Linked DNA regions of Homo sapiens: region 2 is linked to region 1. Evidence: fine-mapped expression QTL. Tissue or cell type: whole blood. Region 1 holds a variant in brackets; the other region holds the start of a gene. All regions are shown on one strand. Distances are from middle to middle.

What was found. PIP is the estimated chance that this variant, and not a neighbour inherited with it, causes the effect.
Region 2: it holds the start of SF3A3, and the variant in region 1 is fine-mapped to the expression of SF3A3 in whole blood (TOPMed, PIP 0.96).

Annotation. Positions count from the first base shown.
Region 1 is chr1:37,956,658-37,959,340 of GRCh38, reverse strand. SF3A3 (splicing factor 3a subunit 3) reads left to right here. Exons shown (of 17, transcript NM_006802.4): 17 at 1,078-2,366. The coding sequence ends at 1,155. Among named protein-coding and RNA genes, the nearest start is that of INPP5B, 11 kb to the right of the region's middle. The variant A/C (reference allele first, on the strand shown) is at 1,492.
Region 2 is chr1:37,988,827-37,991,509 of GRCh38, reverse strand. SF3A3 (splicing factor 3a subunit 3) reads left to right here and starts at 1,488. Exons shown (of 17, transcript NM_006802.4): 1 at 1,488-1,640; 2 at 1,915-1,962. The coding sequence starts at 1,545. It also overlaps the pseudogene RNU6-510P. RefSeq lists enhancers at 330-875, 1,267-1,436, 2,137-2,236.

The DNA.
Region 1 (2,683 bases):
TTGGGAGGCCAAAGCAGGCAGATCACTTGAGCCCAGGAATTGGAGACCAGCCTGGGCAACATGGTGAAACCATATCTCTACAAAAAATACAATAATTAGCGGGGAGTGGTGGCACATGCCTGTGGTCCCAGCTGTTCAGGAGGCTGAAGCAGGAGGATTGCTTGAGCCCAGGCTGTCGAGGGTGCAGTGAGCTGTGATCGCACCATTGCACTCCAGCCTGGGTGACAGAGCAAGAACTTACCTCACAAAAAAAAAAAAAAGAAAAAAAAGTTGAAATGGCAAGTGGGAGTACCCAATCTCATGTTCTGCCATGGAGATTTATAGACTAAAATGCCGAGACTCTGTATCATGTATTAGATCTCCTTTGAGGAAAGCATCTAATGAGAGATGATACTCTCATAGCGACAGGGAGATGTCCTTGTTGGTCTTATGATGGTCATCCCAAGCAGCAGGTTTCAGAGATCAAGAATGACATGTATGTAAGGAATGGTACTGACTCACTCCAAGTCCCATAGTAACTGACAATAGCCTCCCTTTTTTTGAGTCAGTGGTTTTCAGTATTTTTTTTCTTTTTGGCAGCAAAACTCTCTTCCACTTGTAATATAGTACTCTGATATATAAAATAGAATCAAGCAGAATTGCCCTGGACATGGGGAAGCTCAGACTTCCTGGCTTCCCTTTCAACCCCTGCAATGGCCTCTGAGCAGAATCCTGGGATTCTTGGGAACCATTTGAAAACTGCTGTTGTAGGTCAGCCTTTCTCAACCAGGGTTCCCCATCTTAAACATAGAGAGCTAAATAAACTATTTTCTCAGATACTCTAATGATGGGTCATGACTGATATCATTCTAGATGTCTACGAGAGAAGTTAATTCATTGCACACGGTGGCTGCTTTGGGGCAGTGGGACTTAATTCTCTTGTGGAACCCCAGTTGAGAAAGGCTTAGATGAATGCCAATCTTAGTGTACCAGAGTATGCCATGGAATCAGGCCAGGATGAGCTCAGGTACTTAGAGATTGGTTCCAAACATTTCTTTTAGGAGAGCTGTCTAACAAAGTGTACCCCTTCCTTTTCAGGAAGAATATGAAGACTCAAGTGGGAATGTTGTGAATAAGAAGACATACGAGGATCTGAAAAGACAAGGACTGCTCTAGTGTTCAGGGATGTAGCTCAGCTTTTGGGCTAGCCCAGGCTTCCCTAAGATCTGCTTTTTCTATTTCTCCCAACCAAATCCTCTTAAAGACCCTTTGCTATGTAGTCTCATGGTCTAGCATGCATCTTGTAGAAACAAGGCATGCTGGCAGATTGCAGGGTTGAGATGTGTTTTATCTGTTTTATATTTTAAAAGATTCTGCCAGAAAATAAAACCAGACCTTGTTCTAAAGCCCAGGGTTATGGACCAACTCAGTGCTTCAGGTCTTAACGCCTCCATACCTCTTCCTCACCAACTTTACTAGTAGCTGAGATTTAATGGGCACCTATTATGCTAC[A/C]TATCATGTTAGGTAAATCTGACCTGACCTCTTTCCCCACCCTCCTTTGTTGCTGCTTCCCTGAATGAGTATTACCCCAGGATGAGGTCTGCCATCAGCTTAGTTAGCCATTGATGCAAATACTAGGGAAAGACTAGGAGGATGAGCCAGGGTTGCTACTAAGGACTAAGTGTCGCACCAAGGTTTGCCTTTTGTATTTGCATAAAGAAAGGAGTTGGAGCTGGGTGCAGTGGCTTGTGCCTGTAGTCCCAGCTACTTGGGAGGCTGAGGCAGGAGGGTTGCTTGAGACTAGCCTAGGTAACATAGTGAGACCCTGTCTCATTAAAAAAAAAAAAAAGGCATGGTGGCACGCACTGTAGTCCCAGCTACTCAGGAGACTGAGGCTAGAAGATCCTTTGAACCTAGGAGTTTGAGACCAGCCTGGGCGATATAGTGAGGCCCCATCTCAAAAAAAAAAAAAGGGGGGGGGGGGGGAGTTGGGCTGTGTTGGAATGGGCCTGCAGCCCAACAAACAAGGGAACTAGGACCGACAGTGACTTCACCAGCTTGCTAGGTCAGAATGAGAGACTGGTGGGTCTGTCTACCTGTTTCTTCTACAAGATCCCTATTTGACTGTAAAAGTAGCTAATACTCACATGTTCTCCAATCCCAGGTAGCCATGGTAGAGTTGGGTAGAGTTGAGCAGCTGCCCCAGGATCCAAATGTGGTGTCTGAAATGGAAAGAACTAAGGCAACCAGGAAGGCACTGATCTGCCTTATAAGCACAGTCATCTGAAAGTCAGGCCTGCTGCAGGACAGGATCCCCCAGAGACCCCATTTGCCTCTCAACACTCAGACCTTCAACTGTTTTTTAATAAATCTACTTTTTAAAAAAATGTTAATCTTTTTCTTTATATTACACATTTATATCTTATTTTTCTAAAAACCTACCAAGAACCAGTGCCGCACTCATCCCATGCAGAGGCAGGCTGGCTAATATATCTACTTTTAAAAATTCCAACTCAGGCCATGCGCAGTAGCTGATGCCTGTAATCCAAACACTTTGGGAGGCCGAGGGCAGCAAATTACTTGAGGTCAGGAGTTGGAGACCAGCCTGGCCAACATGGCGAAACCCTGTCTCTACTAAAAATACAAAAATTAGCCAGGCGTGATGGCATGCACCTGTAGTCCCAGGTACTCAGGAGACTGAGGC
Region 2 (2,683 bases), 32 kb before region 1:
TTCTCTGTATGGTTCCAATTTTAGTATATGTGCTGCCATAGCAAGCACCAGTGTTTTTCTTTTAACACCGTTCTGGACGTTTTATCTGGACATACACTGTTGTTTTTCTGTCTAGCTTCTTTCACTTAGCATGATGCTTTCATGGTTCATCATTGTAGTATTCATTTATTGCAGAATAATGTTCCATTGTACTGTATAGATATACCACACTTTATCCATTTGCCAGTTAATGGACTCTTGGGCTGCATCCAGTTTTTGTCTATTATGAATAATGCCGCTGTGAACATATGAACACATGGACATGTTTGCATTTCTCTACCTACAAGTGGAGATATATAGACAGAATTTTTTTTAAGGCTGTATGTCATTTCACAGCTGGTCTTCCACTGCTTGGATGCACAGTATTTTATTTTATTTTATTTTACTTTTTTTTGAGACGGAGTCTCTCTCTGTCGCCCAAGCTGGAATGCAGTGGCATGATCTCAGCTCACTGCAACCTCTGCCTCCTGGGTTCAAGTGATTCTCCTGCCTCAGCCTCCCGAGTAGCTGTGACTACAGGCGCGCGCCACCATGCCCGGCTAATTTTTTGCAGTTTTAGTAGAGACGGGGTTTCACCGTGTTAGACAGGATGGTCTCAATCTCCTGATCTCGTTGGATGCACAGTATTTTATTTAACATATTCGCTGCCGATAGACAAGTCGTTTCTACACGTGAATTTCTTTTTTTTTTTTTTTTTTGAGACTGAGTCTCATTCTGTCGCCCAGGCTGGAGTGCAGTGGCACGATCTCAGCTGACGGCAACCTCTGCTTCCCGGGTTCAAGCGATTCTCCTGCCTCAGCCTCCGGAGTAGCTGGGACTACAGGCGCCTGCCATCACGCCCGGCTAATTTTTGTTTGTTTGTTTTTAGTAGAGACGGGGTTTCACCATGTTAGCCAGCCTGGTCGTCTCGAACCTCTGACCTCAAGTGATCCGCCCGCCTCGGCCTCCCAAAGTGTTGGGATTACAGGCGTGAGCTACCGCGCCCGGCCTCACATGTGAATTTTTTTAAAAACACCACCAGCAAAACCCCACTATTCCCATTTTCCTGAGAAAGACGCTGAGGTCCAGAGAAAGAGAAAACGTTCTCATAATTTATGCTGAAAGCTGCGTCCTCAAGTTCCGGTTTCCCAACTCCCATCCGCACTCCAACTGCTCGCGCAGTCCACACAGGATACCTGCCCGCCAAGCCGGCCCCAGCAAGCCGCAGGAAGCCGTCCGCTGAACCTCAGGTTCTTGGGTTTTCCTATGCCCCCTGGAGGCATCTGCGAACCTCTCGGCATCGCTCCACCACACCTCCCACCAGCAGGTGGCACTGTTGCCATCTCCATAACATGGACTGGCCTTCCTTGTGGTGCTCCTGTTTTCTTAAGTCCCGGGGCACTTCCGGCACTCGCGGAACTTTGGTGCAGCCTGATGCGCAACGTGGGGACTCAGGCGCGCTGGGCGGCAGGAGTTGCTTCCGGCCGTGTTGGTGGTCTGAATTGAGAAGCCGCGACTAAGGGAAGATGGAGACAATACTGGAGCAGCAGCGGCGCTATCATGAGGAGAAGGAACGGCTCATGGACGTCATGGCTAAAGAGATGCTCACCAAGAAGTCCACGGTGAGTGGGGCCTGAGCAGAGGCTGCGGCAGGAGCACGAGCCTCTATCCCGTGTTTGACCTCTGAGAGCTTGCTTTGGCCCTCAGAACCTCCCTGCCTTCCTCCGGGCTCCCTCTCCGAGCTCCGGTCTTGGTAACCTCCTCCCGGGGTCCGGAGCCCCAGAGGCCTTTCTGCCTCAGCTGGTAAAAGCTGAGCGGGTAAGCTCCGCCCTCGGGCGGCCTTTTCTACTCCAGAACGCAAACTAACGGCGTTTGTGTCACCGTTTGTTTTTTCAGCTCCGGGACCAGATCAATTCTGATCACCGCACTCGGGCCATGCAAGATGTGAGTGCCCAGCTGTCTGCCTCTCTTTGGGTTGGCGAGGGCGGGAAAAGAGAGGGGAAGTGAAGTGCGGTGTCTCAGCATGAGTCCCTGGCCAAAGGTAACCGGATTGGCCAGTCGCGGGCTCTCTGCCTGGACAGATGTCCACAGGCTGCCGAACGTGAGGGTGCTTCCTCAGTTCTCTGAATGGGGAACTCTTGGGCATTCTTCATTAATCAGAAAGGTGCCCTTTTTTTTTTTCTTCTTCTTCTTCTTTTGGACGGAGTCTCGCTCTGTTGCCTAGGCTGGAGTGCAGTGGCGCGGTCTCGGCTCACTGCAACCTCCGCCTCCTGGGTTCAAGCGATTCTCCTGCCTCAGCCTCCGGAGTAGTTGGGACTACAGGCGCTCGCCACCACGCTCAGCTAATTTTTGTATTTTTAGTAGAGACGGAGTTTCTACTAAACATGTTGGTCAGGCTGGTCTCGAACTCCTGACCTCGTGATCCACCTACCTCGGCCTCCCAAAGTGCTGAGATTACAGGCTTGAGCCACCGCGGCCGGCTTACACGTGCCCATTCTTACAGCATCCTGTATCCCTTGGATGTGCAAACAATAGTTATGAAGAGTCCATGACTCAGGTGCATAGCTACAATCCTTCCCTTAAATGAAAAAAAAAATATATATATATATATACACACACACACACACACACACAACACACCCCGTATGTTAGTGTTTTTCTCCCA